3 separate regions of the Homo sapiens genome follow, and regions 1 and 2 are each reported to be linked to region 3. Evidence: microRNA targets listed by miRTarBase, many of them from high-throughput screens and not tested one by one. Region 3 holds a microRNA gene; each other region holds the end of a gene's coding sequence.

What was found. The annotated mature microRNA hsa-miR-3124-3p reads ACUUUCCUCACUCCCGUGAAGU and lies in region 3 at 872-893, opposite strand. An mRNA with a match to its seed (bases 2 to 7 or 8) in the 3' UTR can be bound and repressed. Matches are read on the target gene's strand: a 7mer-m8 pairs with bases 2 to 8, a 7mer-A1 pairs with bases 2 to 7 and ends in A, and an 8mer does both.
Region 1: the mRNA of ALDH18A1 is a reported target of hsa-miR-3124-3p. Seed matches in the 3' UTR shown: 8mer at 2,400-2,407.
Region 2: the mRNA of TAL2 is a reported target of hsa-miR-3124-3p. The part of its 3' UTR that is shown has no 7-base or 8-base seed match.

What each region holds. Positions count from the first base shown.
Region 1 is chr10:95,603,929-95,606,997 of GRCh38, forward strand. ALDH18A1 (aldehyde dehydrogenase 18 family member A1) reads right to left here. Exons shown (of 18, transcript NM_002860.4): 18 at 2,013-3,015. The coding sequence ends at 2,834. Among named protein-coding and RNA genes, the nearest start is that of SORBS1, 44 kb to the left of the region's middle.
Region 2 is chr9:105,662,652-105,665,720 of GRCh38, forward strand. TAL2 (TAL bHLH transcription factor 2) reads left to right here. Exons shown (of 1, transcript NM_005421.3): 1 at 1-473. The coding sequence ends at 172. Among named protein-coding and RNA genes, the nearest start is that of TAL2, 1.7 kb to the left of the region's middle.
Region 3 is chr1:248,824,201-248,827,310 of GRCh38, reverse strand. MIR3124 (microRNA 3124) reads right to left here and starts at 934; the gene lies at 868-934. It overlaps SH3BP5L (SH3 binding domain protein 5 like), which reads left to right and starts at 1,396. Exons shown (of 7, transcript NM_030645.3): 1 at 1,396-1,476; 2 at 1,945-2,558. The coding sequence starts at 2,376. RefSeq lists enhancers at 705-804, 875-924, 500-1,050, 1,035-1,294, 1,051-1,602 and 1 more.

The DNA of each region.
Region 1 (3,069 bases), not on the chromosome of region 3:
CAGAAATTTTGGCTCAGCAGGTCTGGGTGCGGGAATCTACAGTTTTAGCTAGGCCCTGTGGTCATTCTGTTACAATGATCCTTGAACCACAGTTTGAAGTAGTCTGAGGCCCACATATACAGCAAATAGCAGAGGGGTGTGTGTGTGTGTGTGTGTGAAGAGCGGGTCAGTGATGTTGGGTTTTGCTTTCAATGCCTACCAAAGACTTGGCCAGCTGTGGATGTCAGATATAAAAAACACCTTGTTCAGCTAATTTGCAATTTAGTGATAAAGAGCTTCCCACACCTCCATCTAACTAGAAAGCTTATCCAAGCTCCCATTTCATGAGTGTGGAAACTGAGGCAAAAATGTTTAAGTAGTTACCCAAGGTCACAATGCCAGTCAGTGACAGAGCTGGAAAAAAAATTCTGGAGTCCCAGTTCAGTGCTCCCTCCATTACACTGGGCTGCAAATAGCACCATGAAACTTTAGTGTCTGCTCACCTCTCCCTCCCATTTCCTCTGTCAGGCAGTGCAGTGGGACATTGTGGCTACCTCTCTGGCCGCCATCCCAGCCCTCTTTTATTCCCCAGCAGCCCTACTGTTTAGGTGAATGAATCCTGCTCTCAGCTCCATGAATCAATTAGGATAATCTTCTTCCCCTATCCGATTTTCCTCCTCCCTTACCAATAGAACCCTTACTTTCTTGGAGCTGCAATGTGCCCAAATAAAAAAGCTACACCTCCCAGATCCCTTTTAGAGAGGGTAGGCCATGAGCTAGTTTTGGTCAAGCACTGGGCAGGGGGGTCTTCCTGGAATGTCACTTAGAAGGGGCAGCTGGCAGACACTCCTCTGCCTATGGTTTTTCCTTCTTCCTGCTGGCTGGAATGCAGTCCTGATGGTTGGAATGCCACTACCATGTGGACAAGAGCCTTACCCTAGGACAGAAGAGAATAAATCAAAAGCAGCCCCAGTGCCTGATGGCCTTCATGGAGGCATTAAGTCAGCCTTGAAGCTGCCTACCTCCAGAGCTCTTTTTACATGAGAGAAACAGGAATGATCAAGTTCAAGCCCCAATTCTTTGAAGTTTCTGTGGCATGCAGTTCAACTCAATGTGTGCATTTATAGCAATGATTGATGCAGGCCAGTTTAATGAGTGAAGCTTGGGGTTTCTGTCTGATGATGATAGTGGTCTTTCTCAGGGCCCAGATGCAGGCCTGCCTTCTCAGTGGTCTTCCCCAAGGGCCCCAGCTCTCTTGGGCTGCCTTCTATTTAAGATTCCTGGGCATTTGTTGTCTGGTTGGGAGCTCATTGTGGTATTTGTGACAGTTTCAGGCAGGACTGTTTATAGCCTTTTCAGGCAAGCTATGCCAGAACTCCTCATCCAGAGGGCAGGGCAGTCAGGGTGACTTGCCAGACCATGTAAGGGTCTGGAGGAGAGGCAGGCTGTGCAGCCAGCCTGGGAACATGTTCCACATGACACCATCATTCTTGTGCTGGTAAAACATCCTCAGAGGAAAAGCAGCAGCATCGTAAGCGAGTGCTTATTTCTTTAGGAGGCCCCCATGAAATCTTTCAACTGCAGACTGTCAGGCACCAGGGGCCCTAAGGACAGGAGCTAGAGATGGAGGGAGAGTGGGGAGGGTCCGAGCTGTCAAGTGATCCTGAGGCAACAGGACTGGCAGGGAGGAGCTGGGGGGATGCAGTGAACTAAGGATGTCAGCTGGGGCTATGTGCCACCGCGGGAGCTCGCTCAGGTTGGACCCCACCAACTTCAGACCTTCACTGCACTTTTAGTCTTCAAGCTCTTGGGGCTTAATCTCCTGTTTTCCTTTCCTGTCTCTCCGTCTGAGTCCCTCTGTGGGGACTGCCTATGTTGCTTCCACCAACAAACACTGTTGAGGCAGATGTCTTGTCTCCCCAGACAGCTTCCAGAGAAGAGACCATGCCCACAAGCAGGGCACGAGGGTCACAAGAGAGGAAAAGGAAGGGGGTAACAACAATTAAGGGAGAAAACTTCAATCACGCACAGGCTTTTCATAAAAAACTTTATTTCTCAAAAAAGGGGGAAGAATCCAAAGTATTAAAATAATCCTCTAATTTTTGTTTTGGAGGAAAAGGGTAGGACGACAAAATAATTCATACAAAAATTTCAAGCATCACTGCTGTAGATATTCCTCCAGCTCAGTGGGGAACATCCTGAAACTTGCATCTCCTGCTGCAGCTTGGGTTCCAGCTGCATCACGGGGAACACAGCATCTCCTGGATGCAGGAAGCTGCAAGCATCTGGAATGCTTATTAATTTACCCCACAAATAAATACAAAAGGTCAATCTTCCCAGTGGAAATGATTCCATCGATTTTTGTGACTTTCTGATGAGAATGCTAAAAAGAAGAGTTGCCCCTTTTCTAAAATTCCAAATCTTTCCTTTTTGAAGATGACTACATGTGAAAGAAATAAAATGTGAAAAGATTTGTTAAGGATGACTGGCTCTAGTACCAACTAAATGCCAAGGGGGACTGTAAGTCACTGAGGTGACACAAAGCAGCCATGGGTTTTCCTCGCCTTTTTTATGGGGAAAATGCACCTTTCAATCCTAGAAGATAATTGGACTTGGCAAAGTCCCTATCGGTAGCAACTATTTTCTTACTTTAAAAAAAAAGGGTGAGCTGGGAGCCAGACTGTGCACATCAGCCAAGACTGCTATTGCCAAACGGAGCCCAGAAGCATCCAGGTACACTTTCCAACAGGCAGACCCTACCAGGAACTGGGAGACAAGAGCGGGCTCTCTCCTGAGATAAGACAAGTTTAACGTGAAGACCTTTTGGAAAATTCCCGGGTTTTCCTGGCTCTTTTCAGTTGGTGTTTCTCTGAGGAATAGGGAGGTTCTCATGAAGATATTTTAAACTTCCATGCTCTGAGAAATCTGAGACCACGTGGTCCTTCCCTCGCAGCAGCCACTTAGTAGTAAGCAGTCCCTCAAGTCCTACTGGTCCCCGGGCGTGGATTCTCGATGTACTGATTCCCACTTCAGCTCCTGTGAAAAAGCATGAATAAAAGATGTAGCTTTTCCCAGCCTCTGCTTCCTGTC
Region 2 (3,069 bases), not on the chromosome of region 3:
CTTCTTGGTCAAGGTCTTGGGGGAGCAAAGCCTGCAACAAACGGGAGTGGCTGCTCAGGGGAACATTCTGGGGCTCTTCCCTCAAGGACCCCACCTGCCAGGCCTGGAGGACAGAACTCTGCTTGAGAACTACCAGGTTCCTTCACCTGGTCCAAGCCACCACATTCCTTAGTGTGGCTCTGGCTGTCATCTCCCAGGGCAGCACTTGCCCAGAAATCACTGCCTGTGGACAGACTTTTGCATGTTCCAGAGTTGACCTGATGATAACTCGTGAAGCATGAATTCTAGCTTCCTGGGAGGTGGCTCAGAGACAGCTGCAGGGAGCTGAAAGAAGCCATGAGGAATGTCACTTGTGGGCCGCCACCCCCCAGGGATGTCAGGTAGAGCGGCCTACCTCTGCCTATTTTAAATCCAGGTTCTGCATAAGACTTTTGGAGAAAAAATTCTAAATAAAAAAAAAAAAAGGCTGAAAATCACTGTTTATACTCAATGTCTTCAGTTATAAGAAAGAAGTTTTCTCATAATGGATCTCAGATGAATAAGTAGAATATGCTTCCTTCAGAACATATTTTAAAGTTTGTTTTGAAAAATGAGATTTGATCAAGGGTGAACAAAATAAATCTTAAGATTGATGGGCCGGGCACGGTGGCTCACGCCTGTAATCCCAGCACTTTGGGAGGCTGAGATGGGCAGATCACCTGAGGTCAGGAGTTTGAGACCAGCCTGGCCAACATGGTGAAACTCCGTCTCTACTACAAATACAAAAATGAGCCAGGTGTGGTAGTGCGCACCTGTAATCCCAGATACTCAGGAGGCTGAGGCACGAGAATCGCTTGAACCCGGGAGGGGGAGGTTGCAGTGACCCAAGATCATGCCACTGCACTCCAGCCTGGGCAACGGAGCAAGACTCGCTCTCAAAAACAACAATAACAAAAAAAGTTTTCTCATAATGGATCTCAGATGAATGAGTAGCAGCATATGCTTCCCTCAGAACAGATTTTAAAGATGGTTTTGAAAAATGAGATGCATTTGATCAAAGGTGAACAAAATAAATCTTAAGATTGATGAATAGAAAGATAACCCCTGCAGAAACCAACCTGGGAGACTTGCGGGAAAAATCTGTGGAGAAAAGACACCCCCCGCCCCCCGCCCACTAAGGTGTGGGGATTACAGGAATGCAGCAGAGATATGTGGAACAGTTCTGTGTCCTTTCAACTCTGTAGAAGTGTGAGGTGCTACTTGTGCTGAGCCATTTGTACATATGTGACTTCTAAAGGCAAATAGTGGATTATATCTGTGAGACGAAACAACTGGATAATTTATGTGTTAGGGCTCGTAGTTTTCTTACGAAAAACAGTTAGCTGAAATAAGTTAGCTAAAGCCTTCACTTCACATGTCATGCATTAAAACGTTTCACTCAGCCTGAACTCCTGCTGATTCAAGACCTGTAAAATTCAATTATAATTATGAAAATCCAAACATTACCATTTAATGACTCATTTAACAGAGAGCTTAGTTTAAACAAAACATTTAGAGTAAACAATAGAAATGTAATACCAGACGCTAATGAACTAATGAATTTGTAATTTGTCTTCTTTGCTATGGCACATTAGCCTTCTCAAAAAGAAAAAAGTTTCTCATAATAGATCTCAGATGAATGAGTAGCATATGCTTCCCTCAGAACAGATTTTAAAGTTGGTTTTGAAAAATGAGATGTATTTGATCAAGGGTGATCAAGCTTAGTCTTAGGCTTGGAGGCCTGGTACCCAACAAGTCAGTGAAATAGCACGGATCTGGCAGAATCCATCACCATATGCCACCCTGATGATACTTGGAGTCAAAGATAAATCCTATAGTTGAACCTGGAATACAAATAATGTTATTTGATTATCTCTGGGACATTTTCCTTCCCCAAAGTTCTTGACAGTACATTGGTTTTAAAACCTTCTAAACCATACGTAGGAAACTGATGGATTTGAGATTAGGGATTTCCAGTATATACACAACAGAGGAATTTAAATTTCCTGCCACTCAGAAATAAGGTGTTTTACTTGTGAAAGGTTGAAATGAGCCTCCTTGGTCTGGTGATTGGAAGAAAGCTGGATGAAACTCTTACAATCTCATTCTCCCGAAATAGAAAGGTCATTATGTCATTAAATTCTATACAGCATTCACACTTGTAACACAATGCATTTATTTGAACCAGTAAGATTTCCTTCTAGGCCCTTTATTTAAACTGTATTTGGTAAACTTCCCCACGGACCCAGCATAGTCCAGGGAAACACATAAGAAAAGAGATCAAAATGGTTTTCCTGAATGTGCATTTTTTTTTTTCTCACTAGCTTATGTGGACACAAGCTTACCCCCAAATTACCAGGTGATAGTACATTTCAAAGTTTTGATGACAGTTGTCAATTAACATCACTTACTCTCTCATCTGAAATTAAATCAAAATAACACTTTTGACGGTATTTTTATATTAGCTTTGTTTCAACATGTTGCCAAGGAAAGCACAGAGTATCTCTTTGCCTAGATATAGGATTTTGCCCCTCTACCCAGGATGAGTCCACTTTTCTGCTGCTGGGGCCATGATCTGTGTCAAAGGGGGCCATGATCTTCGACAAAGAGGGCCTTTCCGCTGAAATGTAACAGAGTGCTCCTGAAAAGTCATGAGGAGATCAAGTTCTCATTAAACTATGTGAGGGGGAAATTATTTAAAGAAATTTGCAAATAATCCTATAATTAATAAATGAAACTTTAAATCATTAATTTATGTATTTCACCTCCTAAATGATTTCTTTTGCCTGCTTGCATTTTTGTACACCAAGTCATGTTTGGTTAAAGTGACTGTTACGTCAGGTGTGTTGGCATGTGCCTGTACTCCCAGCTACTCGGGAGGCTGAGGCGGGAGGACTGCTTGATATTAGGAGTTTGAGGCCAGCCTGAGCAACATAGTGATACCTGTCTCAAAGAAAAGAAAGAAGGAAAGAGAAAAAAAAGAAGGTGTCTGCCAAAAAGAAAATATAGTCAATTGTGGACCAAAACCTTGACAAGGTATCCATGAGACTG
Region 3 (3,110 bases):
GAAAAATTAGCCAGATGTGTTGGCATGCACCTGTAATCCCAGCTACTCGGGAGGCTGAGGCAGGAGAATCTCTTGTACTCGGGGGTGGGGGTGGGGCGGAGGTTGCAGTGAGCCAAGATCGCGCCATTGCACTCCAGCCTGGGCAACAAGAGTTAAACTCCGTCTCAAAATAAATAAATACATAAAAAAGCACTCTAACTTCTATAGCTGCTAGCTAGCAGACACATCTGGCCGAATCGCATCTATGCCAATCAAATCTGTAATTTTTCACTTCTCCAACACTATTGAGCCCTGATCACCTTCCTTCCTTCATTCTCCCTTTGAAATGCCCAGTCACTTCTGTACAAATCGGAACAGAGGTCAGTTCTTTTCCTTTCTGTAAGTAGTTACTGAAAAAAGTCTTTTTCACTGCTTCAATGTCTAGCTGGGTTGTCTTTGACAGGATCCAAAAAGGAGGGGAATTCAGCCCATTTGCCTTTTCCATCTGCAGGGCAAAGTTTTGAGTTGACTCTGAGGAAGTTACGCCTTTTGTAAAAACAAAACATCCAACCCTGAATGAAGCCCTTCCCCTTAGGCCTAGGCCCTCCCCTCACCAAGCGACACCTAGAGGTGACAAGCAGGCGCTCGCTCAGGGACCTAGGTAACGATACACAATGCCATGTAACAAACTCCTGCTCATCGAGGGCATCTGACCCTGGGTGCACGAGTGAATTAACTGAGTTAATGTTGACTAAGTTCCTGGTTAGTATTCACGGAGCAATTGGTGACCCCACCAAAACGTCGTTCAAGGTGCAAGGTCCAGAGGCCTCGAGGAGTGGGATTTACACATCGGAGCCGTCCGCTCAGACGCCGTTAGTGGAGGGTTCCGCCGACTTCACGGGAGTGAGGAAAGTCACTTTTGGAAATCGACTTTGCCTTCGCCCGCGAAGCCCGCCAGCGTCCGGACTCGAGTTGCCCCCGGAGCCACTGCCGGAAGTTTACCAGCTCACTTTCGGCGTCGCGCCCGCCTCCGTGGAGCAGGCCGGAAGTGGCTTTCCGGCAGCCGCCGCCGCAGCTCCGTAAAGCAAGATGGCACTACTCACTCTGAGGCTATTATCTCCGTTTTATATCTAGTATTCCTCTTCTCACCAGTTACTCTCGATTTCCGTCCCGCGCCCTAATTTTCTTCAGCACCACATTCTCATGTTTTTCTTTCATTCAGCCTTGGTGGAGTATGGTCTGGAGGCAACCTACGGCTAGCCTGAGCAACGTGGGGCACCATTTTGTACGGAAACTGAAGGCAGGGCGGGGGAGTGTGAGGCCTCCCGAGGAGGCCCGGCTTGAGAGAGAGCGTGGGAGGGAGAGCGTTGTTCACCGATGATGTATTTCCGCTTCTGGTCTGCCTGGTCGTTTTTGGTTGGATCGGCTTGTTGCGGGGAGGGAGGGGGGGAGATTGTTTGCAGCATAGAAGCTCCGCGGACGGGAAGGTAAACTGAGGTAAGGCTGTGCGGGGGGCTTTTGCGCATGGCTGGGTAGAATGGACGGGAGTAGGGTCCTTGGGATTGCGGAAGAGTGTGGAATTGGAGACGGGAGGCTTAGATGTCTCGGGTTGGACAGAGAAGGTGGGGTGGGGCTCGGGGTTACAAGGTGAATCGCAAAGCCGGGCTGGGGTGGAGTGGGACGAGCGGGAGACCACAGGAGATGGAGGAGAGCCTAGGGGTGCAGAGGAAAGTCTCGAAGGCGCTGGTTGAGGAGGGCCTGGGTCGAGAGGAGCTGGGACGGGGGAAGAGTAGAATCTAAAGTCCTTGAGGGCTAAGGAGAGAAGTTGAGGTAGGGACTGGTCGGAATACATGGGTGGGGGCGTGGTGAGAGTGTAGTTTTTGGGAGGCTGTAGAGTTGGAAGGGGCTGGTGGCTGCGGTTTTGATGCTGACATGACCATATACTTGGCCTTTGTTTCTCTGCAGCTCCCCAGAGACGCTCATCCTACAGCCTCAGCTCGGGCCCAGCCTTCTCTCTCCAGCTGCCACCACAGCCTGGAGGCGCCTGCCTCCACCCTCCCGAATGGTGCTCCTCCTAGCAGGCCTCGGTCCAGGATCCAAGCCCCCTTTGCCCCCTGCCTTGGAGCTGTTGCTCCGGGTTTGTCACAGTGGACTCCCTGTGGCGGGAAGGGAAGAACTTTTGCACAGACAAGGCTTCAGCTCTAGGAACCCCACTGACAACTTGAATCTCAACCTCTAACCTAGTGTGAGGTTCTTCCTGTGCCCACCTTTTCTGCCTTTTGAGAAGAGAAACTCTTCTCCTGGCCATCTAGAGCCCAGGAAGCCCCAAGCTGGGGCCCTGGTCCCAGCATGTCAGTCCTCTCTTGTGCATAGGGCTCTGCCCTCCCCCTGTCAGCATGGCTGAGCTCAGACAGGTTCCAGGAGGGCGGGAGACCCCACAGGGGGAGCTGCGGCCTGAAGTTGTAGAGGATGAAGTCCCTAGGAGCCCAGTCGCAGAAGAGCCTGGAGGAGGTGGAAGCAGCAGCAGTGAGGCCAAATTGTCCCCAAGAGAGGAGGAAGAACTGGATCCTAGAATACAGGTGAGAGCACTGAGAGCAGGGAGAGAAGGAGAGCCCAGATTCCAGCCTCCCTGAAGAGTGTTGGATGAATGAGGGCTTAGACTTACTCTGTCCCCAGTCTGCTGGGGCAGGAAAGGAGAACAAGTTTGTCAACAAATCATTGCAGGGTAATGTAACAAGTTCCAAAAGAGTTGTGTGTCTGAAGTGCTGATGGAGTGCAGAGAAAGGCCTGGCCTTAGTGCTTGGGAGGCATTGCTGAAAGCTTCACTGAAGGAGCAAAGTGTCACTTGGCAGTAGATGGAGGAGGCACACTTTAGGTCAGTGGAGGGTAGGTGTGTTGTACTTCTTTCCAGATAAGCAGAGGGGCTGCCACCTTAGTTAGGGATGCTGTGTGAGAGGAGATGACTTTGATACTGGGGGACAGTTTTGAGGCTGAGTGAGAGAATCTTTTCCCCTTTCTCACCTTCTCAGCGGTACCTTCCAGGGATGTGCGGCCCACATTGCTCTGATAATGTGTTTCACCCTTGTAAACAGTGAGACCTTTCCAGTGTTATAAAGGTAGCATCAACTTTA